Linked DNA regions of Homo sapiens: region 1 is linked to region 2. A link means that fine-mapping ties the variant in region 2 to the expression of a gene that starts in the linked region. Tissue or cell type: whole blood. Region 2 holds a variant in brackets; the other region holds the start of a gene. All regions are shown on one strand. Distances are from middle to middle.

What was found. PIP is the estimated chance that this variant, and not a neighbour inherited with it, causes the effect.
Region 1: it holds the start of ELF4, and the variant in region 2 is fine-mapped to the expression of ELF4 in whole blood (TOPMed, PIP 0.99).

The regions. Positions count from the first base shown.
Region 1 is chrX:130,105,576-130,113,681 of GRCh38, forward strand. ELF4 (E74 like ETS transcription factor 4) reads right to left here and starts at 4,922. Exons shown (of 9, transcript NM_001421.4): 1 at 4,750-4,922. It also overlaps a transcript of RAB33A not described here. RefSeq lists silencers at 4,804-4,873, 4,954-5,103, 5,354-5,403, 5,414-5,463, 5,534-5,653.
Region 2 is chrX:130,200,028-130,208,133 of GRCh38, forward strand. ZNF280C (zinc finger protein 280C) reads right to left here. Exons shown (of 19, transcript NM_017666.5): 17 at 5,270-5,388; 18 at 5,090-5,126; 19 at 2,680-4,965. The coding sequence ends at 4,950. Among named protein-coding and RNA genes, the nearest start is that of RAB33A, 32 kb to the left of the region's middle. The variant A/G (reference allele first, on the strand shown) is at 4,600.

The sequences.
Region 1 (8,106 bases), 94 kb before region 2:
CAGAATCAGTGGAAGCAATATATGGCTAGTCCTTAGCGGTCTGGGCAGAAACACATGAAACTCTACATTCTTCATTTCCCAGATGGTGGAGTGGGGAACAATTATGAAAATCTCTTTCCTCCACCTGAAGCTCTGGGCTTCCAGAGAAATCCCAGAACCCTGGGGAAAAGGTGGGATCCAGCCAGCCTGAGACTGCCATGAGCACAAGTGGCATGTCAGTTTTCCTGTCATTTAAGTGCCCTACGTCTCCCCTGCCATCTCTCCCACTCCCCAGGGGCCTGTGTGTGTGTGTGTGTGTGTGTGTGTGTGTGTGTGTGTGTGTGTGTCTGGTAAGGGAGGGGTTTCAAACGAAATCCCCTCAGCTTGGGTGGCAGGCTGGCCAGCCAGTTTATATCTCCCGGAGTGGAGACAGGGGTTTGCACTGAGCCACCCACACTAGCTGACCTGGTCTTTTATGTGACACACATTTGCCAAACAATCATCCAGGCTTCGAAGGTCAGTTCGTGGCCAGGGAATAGAGAGAAAGGCGTCTTTTCTTCCTTTTCTGCTGAGCCAAATCTCCCCCTTGCTTCCCCCTCTCCCCCCTTCAAGGTCTAGCCTAGGCCCGCATCCCTCACAAAGCCTTCCCTCCCTCCTCCAGCTGCTGCTGACCTCCAGTCCCAGCCGTGCTGGCCTCTGCTCCAACAAGCACAATTAGCACCTGACCAGCCACTGGCCCGGCTGCTTGTCCTCGCCTCTGATTGTTTCAGTGTCTTAGTCATCTCTTCCCCAGCGCCTCCTTCTCTCATCTCCCCCACGGCGCCTAGCATCGGTTGGGCACACAGTAGGTATTAATAAATGTCTGTTGAATTGAAACTCAGCAGCCCCTATGAGGTCAGAACCCTCATAAGCACCCCGACCAGCAGTTTCTTGGCAACCAGCACTGGGGCCCGAGCTACAGGGCATTAGCAGTGTGGCTGCTATTACAGGACACACGAGGCTCAGCGGCCAGAGATTTGCAGGCAGGTTGGTGTTGATGAGAAAAGCCCCTGACCCCTAGGAAAGCGCCTATGGGATTCTGGGTGCCTTGCAGGAGTTTCCTTTCTCCCCTGCAGAAGTAGTTTTCAGTCTGAGAACCACAAAAAGAATAAATTGGAAGAGAAGCCAGAAACCTCTTTGCAGCTTAGAAATCCAGGAGAGATGCCAAGCCCGGGTTGGGGTCAGGCCCTACCCTGAGGACAGAAGGCTGCCCAGGGCCTTTCCCAGCTCGGTGGGAGATCCTGGGGAGACAGGGGGCATGGCAGACATGACCCCTTCCACTGCAGGGGGCTATAGGGATGTTTGGGGGGTGTCCCTAAGAAATGCCATCCTGCCCTGGAACCCAACAAATGACATCCTGCAAGATTGCCACCTGTAGCTCATGCAGAAACCAGTGTCCCAGCCAGGAGCAATGGCTCACGCCTGTAATCACAGCACTTTGGGAGGCCAAGACGGGCGGATCACCTGAGGTCAATAGTTCAAGACCAGCCTGGCCAACATGGTGAAACCCCGTCTCTACTAAAATATACAAAAATTAGCTGGGGAAGGTTGTGGGCACCTGTAATCCTAGCTATTCAGAAGGCTAAGGCAGGGAGAAATGCTTGGGCCTGGGAGGCAGAGCTTGCAGTGAACCGAGATTGGGCCACTGCACTCCAGCCTGGGCGACAGAGCAAGACTCCATCTCAAAAAGAAAAGAAAAGAAAAGAAAAGAAAACCAGTGTTCCTTTCCCTCTCATTCACCCAAATCCTAGGGCAAGACTCTGTGTGTGGGGAGGGTGGGAGGTGCATCTAGACCAGAATCTGGCCAGGGTCTTCAGGCAAAGAGAAGCCCCCAAGTCTAGGGTGCTTGATCCCCCACACTGGCTCAGGAATTTGATCCTGGCTTCCAATTACAATTATTTATATAGATGACATATCCCCTCTCCCTGACCCCTTCCTGTACACCTGCTCTGACTCCAGCCCACACGAAAAGGTACACACAATCCCGGAAGGCAGGTGGTGTCTTCCTCACATCCATGTTTTCCTCACTGCCACTTCATTGGGGTCTGGTACTAGGACCGGCTCTGAGCAAGTGTTTGCTGAATTGAATCTGAGTTTTAGGCGCTGCATTAGGCAATATCGTAAGGGCAGCTAGCACTTACTGTGTGCCATGTGCTGTTCTAATAAGCATCTTATATGTATTCATTCATGTATTTGATCCTCACCAAAGTGTTATAAAGTGGTCTCATGTGACAGATAAGGAAACTGGGGCATACAATTGACTGGGATCACATAGCTAGTAAATAACAATGCTGGGATTTCAACCTAGACAGCCAGGCTTTAAGAACTGGAGGTAGCTGGGCACAGTGGCTCACGCCTATAATCCAGCACTTTGGGAGGCGGAGGCGGGTGGATCACCTGAGGTCAGGAGTTCGAGGCCAGCCTGACCAACACGGAGAAACCCCGTCTCTACCAAAAATACAAAATTAGCCGGGCGTGGTGGTACATGCCTGTAATCCCAGCTACTCGGGAGGCTGAGGCAGGAGAATCACTTGAACCTGGGAGGCGGAGGTTGCGGCGAGCCAAGATCGTGCCATTGCACTCCAGCCTGGGCAACAAGAGTGAAACTCCATCTCAAAAAAAAAAAAAGAACTGGAGGTAAGGAGTTCAAGATTACAGTGAGCTGTGACTGTGCCACTGCACTCCAGCCTGGGTGACAAAGTGAGACCCTGAATTAAAAAACAAAAACCAAAAAAAAAACAACACTCTAAACGCAAAAACAAAAACTGGATGTAAAATTACATTGCGGGGGTAGGGGATGTGGAAAGGAAGAAGGCCAAGCTTAAGAGCAGAAGAGCAGAGGTTTCCCCAGGAAAGCAAACTCCTCAGCCTGTGTCTAGCTGGGTCTGTGCGGCACAGGGCCTGATTTTTGCAAGATGAGGGGCATTTTGGACATGCTATCACTCAGGCCCCTAGAGACAGACCACAGCACCCTCTATTTTAGATCCCAATATATGCCAGAGAAGACAGAAGCCACTGTGTCACCACTTAGCACTAGGTGAGGGAGAGTGAATTTTGGGCCCCTAGGTTGTCCAGGGGTGGGCGCCAGTTCCTGAGCAACCACCGAGCAAACAGTGCAGCACAGGGAGGAATGCCAGACATAGTTGCAAACAAGCCACTCCTTCGGCTCACAGCAAGAGGCTGGGTGAGGGTGGTAGCATGGAGCCTGCTTCATGGTCCCCCCCACCCCTGCCCCCAACAAGAGATCCCAGGCTCTGAATCCAGCCCCAAAAACAACCAGATGCAAGGTAGCCTCTTCCTCACACCAGCTGGCTGGGATAGGAAGTCCTCCCTGATAATCTTCACTGAACTCCAGAGAGCTCCCCCTACGCTGCTCCTGTACTGGATGCACTGAATCTGAATTAATGGTTGAGAAAGCACTTTATAACCAGGAAAACCCAGTGTAACTAACTGCAAGGAAGGACTGGCATTCTTGCTGGGCATATGTGTTCCCCGGGCATTTTCAGTGCCAAAGTCTCCCCAAAGGGAAGAGCTAGAACTGTTCCCTTCACCCACCTCCAACCTGGCACTCGGGCCAGGGGTCAGCTGGCAGGGGGTGAGTCCCCAATGGGCGTGCCCACCAGCTGTTGGGGCTGAGCAGTGGTGGTTCAGGCCCTGGGGTGGTGACCTCACTTCCGCTCCTACCTCCCCACCTCCCCAGCACTCCTCCCATTTGAGGCCCCACCAGGCCAAAATCGAGAAGTCCAAGGTTAACTGTTCTTTCCCACTTTAAGAGCTAATTAAAATAATTAGCCACAATGAACTGTCAAACATTAACCAGAAGAGGCTGCAGGACCAGACAGGCCTCTATCACAGGCCGAGGGATGAGGGGCAGGAATCAAATGGCCATCAAATCCCTCAGCTGGGGTATGGTGCGGGGCGGGGGCGGCCCAGGAGGACCTCGCTGAGCCGAGGTGCCAAGGGGTCAGGAGGTGACTCTGGTCAGGAAGGTGATGTGCAGGCATACGGTGGTGAGAAAAGGGAGTCAGGGTTAGGGTGCGGTGGAGGAGCCAGGAATTCATAAAGCGGTCACCGCCTCAGCAGTCCCTCAAGCCTCCAAAGCAAGGCGCTGGCGTGAGGGGACCCCGCACGGTGCGGCTGCTGAATCCCCTAGGCGGCGGCCCAGGAGGGAACCCGGAGGCGGGAGAGTCGGGGAGAGCGGGAACGCGGGAGCGGGAAGGCTGGCGGCTGGCTCACACGGAAACTCCGGCCCCTGCCAAGAGGTCTCTATTTTGGCGATCCAGTTCTCCACATCATAGGTCTGCGTGCGCGTGTGTGCGTGTGACCCTAAAGCCCTGGCCCCAGAAGCCCCGGGGGCAGTCGGATCCATCTAGCAGCTCCGCCGCGGTCCGCCCCACCTCCTCTGCCCTCGGGCGCCCAGCTTCTGGGGGCCCGCTGTCATGATCGGCCCCGTCACGGAACCCAGGCTGCCGGGGGCGAGGGAAAACAGGGGCCCCTACCCCGACTCCCCGACTCGGGGAATCCATTCCACTTCCATCCCGGGATCGGGAGCCCGGGTTCTCCATCACACGCGCGGCGGGGCGACTCCAGGGCGGCTCGCGACACTCCGCGACTCTCCCGCCCTTCCCTGGGCCCCCAGCCCCACGCCGGGGCCCCGGCGCTCTCGATTCCGCCCTCAAGCAAACTTTTCCACGTCCCCCAAGGCTCGAAGAACCGGCGCCATCGACGTACCTGAGGCCGAGTGGCTCACGGGCCCAGCTCGGTCGCCGGGCCGGGGTCTGTCTCCGTGGTCCCCGCTCCGGGGGCCGAGACGCGGGTCCCCAGCCCCGCCAGCCCGTCCTCTCCCCTCGGAAGCCGGGCCGGGCGAGCGGCGCCAGGAACTCGGCGCCGGCGAAAGGAGAAGTGGAAGTTGAGCGCGGCGCCCGGTCGGTCCCCGCGGCCGCCGGGGCCGCCGTCCCCCGCCCTCCTCCCCGCCCGCCCTTCTTCCCCGCCCGCCTGCCCCCGCCACCCCGCGCCCGTGACTCACCTCGGCGCCGGGGCAGGCTGGTCCGGGCGGGCGAGGCGCAGGGCTCTCCCACACTTCGCGCCGCCAATGGCAAGTTGGAGGGAGAGATGCAAATACCAGGTGAGACGGCGGCGCCCCTGATAAAACGGGGCGGGGGGCGGGGTGGAGCGCGCGGGGAGCGGGGCGGACGCCGGGGAGGGCCGGGCCAAGACACGGGGCGGCAGGGGCGCCCGGGGAGGGGGCGCGAACCGGCGCAGACATGCACCGAAACGAGCGAGCGAAAGGGGAAATGCAGTAGAGACACACACGTCCCCGCAGGCGGCGGATGGGGCGGGCGCGAAGGAGGCAGGGCGGGAGGGAGGGAAGAGCCGGAGGGAGGGACCGACGGGAGGGACTGCGGGCGGGCGGGGTGGGGGAGGGAACGAGGGAGGGACGAGGCATCTCGGTGGAAACAGCGCCCGTCCGCCCCGGCCCGCCCGCCGCGGTCGCCAGCACGGCATGGGGAGCCGTGCCAGGGGCCCGCGCGGCCTCTCATTCCCCTCGCGGCTCGCTCGCGCCCGGGGGACCACGAGGCAGGGCGCCCGCAGAGCCCGCGTCGTGCGCCGCGGCCCGGGCGGGCGCTCCCCACTCTGCTTCTAGCCAGCGAGACTCCGAGCTCTCTGCTCGTTCCGCGCCCTTCCCGGTGCGAAGCCCCCATACAACGCCCCGCAGAGAAATCCCTTCCCCGCGGACTCGGGAAGGTTTCGTCCAGCCCCCTCGGCCCGTGCAAGTGGAGACTTGCTTGACGCCTTTGGGCCAAGCCCTGCGCTCCACATTATTGAGCTCCTGGGGTGTGCAGGCCCCAGCGGGAGGGCGGGCCGTGCGGCGGGTGAGGCCGCGAGATGCCCAGAGGATACAATTTTGGAACCATATGCCCGACTCCGCAGAATCCTGGGCGTAACACCTGGGGTGACTGGAGAGTTTCGGCGACTTCTTAGGGAAGTCGAGTCTAGGACTCCTGCGGGAAGTTGGGGTGGGGGACGCTGGCAAGATATGAGTCAGGGGAAGGGCTAGGGGGAGAGGGGCTGGCCCAGCAAGTGCAAAGAGAGCCAGAGTTCGGGTGCTGGAAGAAAGCCCATGCCTACCTTTCTTCCCCTGTCCAAAGCCAGGCTGCTCTGCTCCACGCGCCCACTTGAAAGCCACTCAGGCACGCTCCCCTTCTATCTCCCCTTTGCCCTCTCTGACCTGCCTCAACATCAATACCGCCGCCTACGTGGGTCTGCTGATAGGAGGCTCTGGAGAGAGTGCGCTGGGAATTGTTACTCTGTATAGTTCCACGTGGCCTTTTTGGGGGTGGGGGCAGCAAGGCCTAAGCCTTGGCAGAAAGCATCAAGACTGAAGGAGCCCCAGGGGATGGGGCCTTCTAAAGGGCTTGAGGTTGAAGGACCTACTCAGCCTCCAGCATCGGCCTGCTTCTCCTGCCTTGGGAAAGGATCATCTCAGGCGCAGGACTGGGGGACAGGAGTGGTGGTGGATGATGGCCACAAAGGCAGCTGCAGATTACAAGTTCCCAAGGAAAGATCCTGTGGCTGGACTGGGGCGCCGGCCCCTGAGACCTCCTGGATACTCAGAATCAAGTCCCCAAAACAAGCACTTTGTCTTTTCCAAGCGGGCATGCTTTTCCCAGGGGATTCCAGATCCTGGAGACACACAGTTCTCTGCTGGCCTCTCATCCACGAGGTCCCCTCTCAAATTTGGGGTAGGTTCCGGATGTCCCTAAGCCCTCTTTACCTTGACTTTGAAATTCACGAATGGACAGACACGTCTGCACACGCGTGCACACACACACACTTTCCCATTTTGCTAAGAGCTCAGTGGTCTGTAACCTCAGACAGACCTGGGTTCCTATTCCAGCTCACTATTTACCAGCTGTGTGACTTCAGGCAAGTCACTTAAACTCTCTGAGCCTCACTTTTCTTCTTTAAAACAGAACAAAAACAAAAACTAGGCTGGGTGTGGTGACTCATGCCTGTAATCCCAGCACTTTGGGATGCCGAGCGGGGTGGATCACTTGAGGTCAGGAGTTCAAGACCAGCCTGGCCAACATGGTGAAACCCCATCTCTACTAAAAATACAAAAATTAGCCGGTGTGGTGGTGCATGCCTGTAGTTCCAGCTACTCGGGAGGCTGAGGCAGGAGAGTCACTTGAACCTGGGAGGCAGAGGTTGCAGTGAGCCGAGATCGTGCCACTGCACTCCAGCCTGGATGACACAGTGAGACTCCATCTCAAAAAAATAAATAAATTAAATAAATTAATTTTTTTATTTTTGTTTTTTATTTTTATGGGTACATTGTAGGTGTGTGTATTTATGGGTTACATGAGATGTTTTGATACAGGCATGCAATGTGTAATAATCACATCAGGGTAAATGGGGTATCTGTCACCTCAAGCATTTCTCCTTTCTTTGTGTGTTTTCTTTTTCTTTTTTTTTTTTCCTTCTTTTTTTTTTTTTTTTTTTTTGAGATGGAGTCTCGCTCTTTCTCCCAGACTGGAGTGCAGTGGCGCGATCTCGGCTCACTGCAAGCTCCACCTCCCGGGTTCATGCCATTCTCCTGCCTCAGCCTCCTGAGTAGCTGGGACTACAGGAACCCGCCACCATGCCCGGCTAATTTTTTGTATTTTTTAGTAGAGGCAGGGGTTCACTGTGTTAGTCAGGATGGTCTCGATCTCCTGACCTCGTCATCCACCCGCCTCGGCCTCCTAAAGTGCTGGGATTACAGGCGTGAGCCACTGCGCCCGGCCTCTTTCTTTGTGTTATATACAATCCAGTTATACTCTTTTAGTTTAGATTTTTTTTTTTTTGAGACGGAATTTCACTCTTCTTGCCCAGGCTGGAGTGCAATGGTGTGATCTCGGCTCACCGCAACCTCTGCCTCCTGGGTTCAAGCGATTCTCCTGCCTCAGCCTCCCGAGTAACTGGGATTATAGGCATACGCCACCACACCTGGCTAATTTTTGTATTTTTAGTAGAGATGGGGTTTCTCCATGTTGGTCAGGCTGGTCTCAAACTCCTGACCTCAGGTGATGCGCCTGCCTTGGCTTC
Region 2 (8,106 bases):
CCGTTGTATGGACACACCATAACTTTTGAGACAGAGTCTTGCTTTGTCACCCAGGCTGGAGTGCAGTGGTGTGATCTCAGCTCACTGCAACCTCTGCCTCCCAGGTTCAAGTGATTCTTGTGCCTCAGCCTCCCCAGTAGCTGGGACTTCAGGCACCCACCACCACACCCAGCTAATTTTTGTATTTTTAGTAGTGACGGCGTTTTGCCATGTTGCACAGGCTGGTCTCAAACTCCTGATCTCAGGTGATCCACCTGCCTCGGCCTCCCAAAGTGCTGGAATTACAGGGATGAACCACCGCGCCCGGCAACACACCATAATTTATTTATCCCTTTATCTGTGGGTGACATTTAGGCAATTTCTATCTTTTGGCTATTGTGAATAGTGCTGCTATGAACATGCATATACAAGTATCTGAGTCTCTGCTTTGGATTCTTTGGAGTGAAACTGCCGGGTCATATGGTAATTCTACACTTAACCTTTTTGAGGAACTGCCAAACTGTTTTTCATAGTGGCTGGACCATTTTACACTGCCACCAGCAATACATGAGGGTTCCAATTTCTGCCTCAGGGCTTTTGCACTTGTTTCCCCTCTCTAGAAAGCTCCTCTGACAGATACCCAGGTGGCTCACTTCCTCACCTCCTTCAGGTCTTTACTCAAATGCCATCTTCTCAAGGAGGCCCAACTTGACCATCAAATTTAAAACGGCAACCTCTCAACCACCAACCTGTATGTTGCTATCTCCCTTATTTTCCTCCGTAGACTTCATCACCATTAACATACTATACGTTATTTACTTTCTATTGTCTGTCTCCCAACACAGAAATTTAAGTCCCATGAAGGCAGAGATTTCAGTTTGTATTTCCAACAACTACAACAGTGCCAGGCACATAGTAGGTAATATTTACCGAATAAATGAGACTGAGAGGCTGGGCGCAGTGGCTCAAGCCTGTAATCCCAGCACTTTGGGAGACCGACGCGGGCGGATCACAAGGTCAGGAGATCGAGACCATCCTGGTGAAACCCAGTCTCTACTAAAAATACAAAAAATTAGCTGGGCGTGGTGGCAGGCGCCTGTAGTCCCAGCTACTCGGGAGGCTGAGGCAGAATGGTGTGAACCCGGGAGGCAGAGCTTGCAGTGAGCTGAGATCGCCCCATTGCACTCCAGCCTAGGCGACAGAGCGAGACTCCGTCTCAAAAAAAAAAAAAAAAGAAAAAAGACTGAAAGAGGTGTTTTGCCAAAATGTGACACAAAGAAGGGCAAGAATCTAAGTCTTTGTCATTTAGTGTTTTTTTAAAAAATAATAATAGTGATGGACTGAAACTGAGCCAACCATACCTTTTATTCAGTTGAAAACAAAAAAGGACACATGCATGACATGGCTATTTCTGAATCAGGTGAAATAACTAACAGTCTGAAGGTGAAGAGGGATCAGATTGTCAAGCTAAAACTCACTAACACCTATTAAAACTCAACTGCTTATAACAAGTAAGCTTAGTACTGACTGCATAAATAGTTTTATTTAAACAAAGTTTAAAAAAAGTGATGCTATGGGACACATAACTTCCAGAGCATTAAACTTTAAAATAACTTGATACATAGTATAAGAAACAGAATCCTATGGAAGAACACAAAACTGTACCTCTACCTAAAATACTGCTATAGCAAGAATGTGGTTTTCTGTATTTTTGAACTGTGATAGAGACAGAGAAAATATCTGTAAATAAAAAGAAGACCAATGCTAAAAATGCAAATAAGTTGTTATTTCTGGGAAAAAGTTTAAAACTTAAAGTTGGGTGTCATTAATGCTGCTGAATGAAAATGATTTTAAATGGCAAATTTCATACATTTTACCATAATAAAAAAAGTAAAAAAAAAATGGGTAGAAAAATGGTGTTTGACAAAACATCCTAGAGAAAGGTATGGAAAGAAAAGGATTACCAAGTCCACGACTATGACATAAGCCCCTTTTGGAGATTTGGGAAAATCATTTAGAGCAGAAATCTGTTTGGAAAATTAAAATTAATGGATTCAACTCCTGACTATGAATTGCAAGGAGTATACTACATAGCAGTGGCCAATGACACTGGCTTTCAGTGTTTCAAAGTATATCAAAGCAGTTTTAATTTTCTTTTTTTTTTTAAAGCAGGGTCTTGCTTTGTGGCTTAGGCTGGAATGCAGTGGCATGATCATAGTTCACTGCAGCCTCGAACTTCTGGGCTCAAGCGATCCTCCTGCCTCAGCCTCCTGAGTAGCTAGGACTACAGGCATATGCCACCACACCCAGCTTTTTTTTTTTTTTTTTTTTGTGGTAGGGACAGAGTGTTGCTATGTTGCCCAGGCTGGTCTTAAACTCCTGGCTCCCACCTCAGCCTCTCAAAGTATTGGGGATTACTGGCATGAGACATTGTACCTGGTCCAGTTCTAATTTTGGAGTTAAAAAACACCCATATTGAGTCAAATGACTTCAGAGCCTGCCCACCTTCATGACTATTAAGATCACAAAGGGGGCTTTTGCTAGCTGCTCAAGAAATTAGTAAAGTGTAAATAGTTTGCTTTTAACTGTGCTGGAGGAAAAAGTACAAGATGTGCTCAGCAGATAAAGCTTTCAGTCTGCAGGTCAAGCAATCAGGCTCCACGGAACTAGGAGCAAAGCAATGCTCCTATAGTTATATGATAGCTTTTATATGAAGTTATTTATTAGAAATTTCCAAGGCACTTTAACAATACAAATTTTATTAAAAAAATAACATCAAAACTGTTCAGCAAATCTGTATTCAATGTAACCAAAATAAACAAACAAGAAATTAAAAAAAATATACATCTATATATATATGAGCAAGAAACAAGTGCATTTTTTGGTCCCAATATTTTTTGAATATATTATCTTTATCCAGAGGAATTACATTAATGGCTAAGAAGGTATTATGTATTAGATGTATAGAAATGTAACTTTAAAACTTGTTTTAAGTTCTGTAAGAAGAGTTTTGCCAATTCTTTATGTCTTTGAAATCAGAATCCCTAAGCTAATGTTAATGATAGGCCCAAGACAGAGCATGTAATAATGTCTAATGGTCTGGACAAGTATGAAATTAAGAAGCTACCAATAAGTAGCTACACGAAATCTGTAGACAATTCTAAGAAATGTCTTGGAGTTTGTAATAAGAACAAAACAAACACAAAGAGAAGAGTTCAAAAGTAGACATAAAATGGACATCAGCAAATTTCATGAATCTGGGACAAAGAAGTGATGGAAAAATAAAATAGAGTAAAATAAATTTAAGAACAATATAAAACCTAGCTACCAAAATAAAATTAAAAAAAAAGTTTAAAAATGTGAGTATCGGTCGGGTGCAGTGGCTCACACCTGTAATCCCAGCACTTTGGGAGGACGAGGCGGACTGATCACGACGTCAGGAGATCGAGACCATCCTGGCTAACATGGTGAAACCCTGTCTCTACTAAAAATACAAAAAATTAAAAATTAGCCGGGCGTGGTGGCAGGCGCCTGTCATCCCAGGTACTTGGGAGACTGAGGCAGGAGAATGGCGTGAACCCAGGAGGCGGAGCTTGCAGTGAGCCAAGATCGCGCCACTGCACTCCAGCCTGGGTGACAGAGCAAGACTCTGTCTTAAAAAAAGAAAAAAAATAAAGTGAATATCAGTATTGCTGAAAATTCCTAGAATATTGGATAAAACTTTAAATGAAAACATGAATAACTGACTTTGGGAACTGTAATTGTAGAAATTTTGTTTTTCCAAAAACAAGAAAGTAACCTTGGTTCCCAATACAACCAGAATTTTGATATTCCTTGGACTGCATGCCTGCTAGAGGAAGATTAAAGAACAGCAGCCAAAATGGCTAAACGTCAGCCTGGATGTTGAAGCACTGATCTAAAAACAATATAAAACCAAGCTACCAAAATAAAACAAAATAAAATGTAAAAAATGTTTAAAAATGAGAATATTAGTATTGCTGAAAATTCCTAGAATACTGGATAAAACTTTAAATAACATGAACAACTGTGTCTTTGGGAACTGTAATTGTAGAAATTTTCTTTATCCAAGAACAAGAAAGTAACCTTGGTTCCCATACAATCAGAATTTTGATATTCCTTGGACTGCATGCCTGCTAGAGGAAAATTAAAGAGCAGCAGCCAAAATGGTTAAACGTCAACCTGGATGTTGAAGCACTGATCTCATGGACTTTTCTTGGTTAGAATCGACCCATAAGCTTAAGATCAAAAGCCAAAGCTCCCAATGGGAAGTTGTGCTCTATTTGGTGGGCCTTGAGGTCATCTCTGGCCAAATCAGCATCAGCCTTATGGGAGGTCAGTCAGGTAGGAAGGGACTCTCCCCAAGATCTGATTTCTGAAGGCCACAAACTAGAGGACGTCTCACAGTCAAATAATTCACATTTCTTGGAAAGAAAGAACAGGTATCAGTTGTGTCCATCAAAAGGGGACACTGTCCAGGAGTACCCTGGATATTTTTTGAAACTTATGTGTTGCTTCTTCATTTGAAAAATATGAAAAATAGAACAGTAATGAACAAGGAATGAAGAAAAAATGGTTATCTGACCTAAACATGTAAGACTT[A/G]TAAGAAATTAAGAAAGCAGACAAAACAGACAGAAAAAGATGAACAGTCATATTATCTGGAATGTAATATTCTGAAGGCAAGTCAAGTATAGCAGAGAAAAACAAAAGGCATTTTTGGAGAGAGCCAACTGGAGAAAAAAATATGTTAAGATATGTTAACCTGACGCAAAGATAAGGTGGAATAACAATGTAGTGGCATCTGAAAGCTGAAAAGAGCTGAATAATGAGAGCTAGTGTCATAAACTTGGCTGTTTAACTGCCCTTTGTGTGAGAAAATACTTCAGAACTTTGAACTTAGGAACTTCCAACTTGTCTTGCACCAGGTTGCATGAACTCCATGGAGCAGGAATCTATTTCAATGAGCAGCTTTAAGAAAAAAAAAAAAAAACTTTAATATTTTTCATTTATATTAATATTAATGATTCATTAAAAAATACAACAGTGCTAAAGTCCATCAAAGCAAAATGCACTGAAGGAAAATTAAACTTACCCAGTAGTGGGTTCAGAAGTTGAGGTACTTTTGGAAACTGAAATCAAAAGAGTTTTACATTTACAATAGCATATATGAAGAGTGAGACTATCAATTTAATACATGGGTCCATATGGTGTCCGATCAAAAGTACTGAAATAAATATCAGAAAATCAAAGAAACACAATTATATATACGTACCATTCTCTATTATAACTTGGCAAGTATGAGTTTTACGTTGACTTAAGTGTTTAGCCATACGATCTAAGCCGGAAGAATCAGCTAGGAAATCACATTTAAGGCACACTAGAGTAATGCCCCTATGAAAAAAAAGAAGACAGTAAGAAATATTCTTATCATTTATGAAAATCCATATGAGCTCAATAATTACTTTTCCATGTACTAACTTGATTTGCATTTTAGTCTCCACAACCGTCATTTTCCAATTTTGTTATATAAACTTGATATATTTAAAATAGTTCTCTAGAAAATGGCATCGCTGGCCAGGCACGGTGGCTCATGCCTGTAATCCCAGCACTTTGGGAGGCAGAGGTGGATGGATCACCTGGGGTCAGGAGTTCGAGACCAGCCTGACCAATATGGTGAAACCTCGTCTCTACTAAAAATACAAAAATTAGTCAGGCATCATGGCGTGAGTCTGTAGCCCCAGCTACTCTCAGCTACTTGGGAGGCTGAGACAGGAGAATTGCTTGAACCCAGGAGGCGGAGGTTGCAGTGAGCCAAGATTGTGCCACTGCACTCCAGCTGCGAGACTATGTTAAAAAAAAAAAAAAAAAAGGAAAAGAAAATGGCATCGCCATATTCAAATTACGCTAACATTTAGTGCTTTATAAATTGTCACCTCTCAACTTGTTGCTGAAAGCTAGGCATCAAGAGACTCAAAGCCAAGTCTCCCTTAACAACTTAAGTAATGTGTGCAAGTTATTACTTACAAAGCAAGGATATAATATTCATTCACTGAAATATATAAATATTCATTTGCTGACAACCTTCTTCACCCACACTGTACTACTAGGTATTGTAGATATAACAGTAAACAAAAAAGGTACAGTGTGTGGATTCTGCAATCTAGTATCTTAGTCAAATGAGGATAAAATTAGAAAAGAAATGTGAAGGTTTTAAAATCCTGTAATTATCAGTTTATTAACAAAGCATACATATACTTTTGAAGTTCATCAGATACTTTAAACTTAAATATTTCACCTCTATAGGAAACCAGTGCATACCTTGGATTGACTTCTTTAGTTTTTTTTTTTTTTTTTTTTTTTGAGACGGAGTCTGGCTCTGTTGTCCAGGCTGGAGTGCAGTGGCACAATCTTGGCTCACTGCAAGCTCCGCCTCCCGGGTTCATGCCATTCTCCTGCCTCAGCCTTCCAAGTAGCTGGGACTACAGGCGCCTGCCACCACGCCTGGCTAATTTTTTTGTATTTTTTAGTAGACAGGGTTTCACTGTGTTAGCCAGGATGGTCTCAATCTCCTGACCTCGTGATCCACCCGCCTCGGCCTCCCAAAGTGCTGGGATTATAGGCGTAAGCCACCGTGCCTGGCTACTTCTCTAGTTTTAACAACCTGTTGTGGATTTACACCTAGCCAGAACTCCTGCACATCAAAAATTATCTTCATAAAACTGGAATCATGTGCTTTCCCCATGAAATTTAGGGGGAAAGTCTCTTTTATGATGCCATTTCCCTAATACTGAGGCTCAAATTTGTAGTTATCTCTGACTTTCTTCTTACGTAAAACATTCAATATTTCAAACGTTTTATGATGTTAACGATTTATCGAGTACTTACTCTATGCCAGTCTGAGGGTTTTAGACATTATTGCCTGATCTAAATCTTATGGCAACCCAAAGAGATAGGTGCTACAATTATTACCTTTTTACAGAGGACAGAATTAGTTTCAGTAATCTACTGAGGCCAGGATCAGGTTGGAAATGGAGCCCTTTGATTCTGAAGCCCATGCTCTTAAATATGATGTGATACCACCCCACCACCTCAGCCCAGGGCATTATTAAGTAAGTCTTAACCACTACAATAGCCTTAACCAGCCTATGTGTCTCATGCAGCTACAACTCATCCTGTATACTCCTCCAAAGTGATCTTCCTTCAGCACCCTTGATTCTACTCAAAACATCAATGGCTTCCCCAATGTCTTCCAAATGAAAATTAAGCCCAAACTCCCCAGCCTTGTTTTCAAGGATTCAACAATCTGCATCTAAGTTCAAAACTATCTCCCCAGACTGATCTTTTTTTATTTTTGGAATGGAGTCCCACTCTGTCACCCAGGCTGGAGTGCAGTGGCGCGATCTCGGCTCACTGTAACCTCCACCTCCCGGGTTCAAGTGATTCTCTTGCCTCAGCCTCTGAGTAGCTGCGATTACAGGCGCACACCACCATGCCCGGCTAATTTTTTTTGCATTTTTAGTAGAGATGGGGTTTTGCCATGTTGGCCAGGTTGGTCTTAAACTCCTGACCTCAGGTGATCCACCCACCTCAGCTGCCCAAAGTGCTGGGATTACAGGCATGAGTCACCGTGCCCGGCCAACTTTGATCTTAATATAATACTATGCTATATGAACTTTGTGCTTCATCCAAATTTTACTCCTAGTTATTCATTGTCATTCCGGAGAATGTGTATAGTTTCTGCATTTTCCTTTCTGAACTTTTATTCATGTTATTTCTTCCAACTAGAATGCCCTTGTGCCTCTTCTTGTAAGTAGAAACCTTTCTCCCCTTTGAAATCTGTATCTCTCACTGCACTTACTAGAAACCTCTTTGAATTACTGTAGTTATTTATGTTCACACCTTATATCCATACCCCTTTAATAAATTGTACATTCCTTGAAGGTTGGTACAAGCCTTCTTCATCACGGTCATCTGTATAGGACTTCCTACGCTGTATTATACATGATAGGTACACAATAAATAGCTAAAGAATATTTCATTTTAACAAAATAGTAATTATGAAAAAATTGTTTATAGAAATACAAAATGCTATGTCCATACACAGATTTT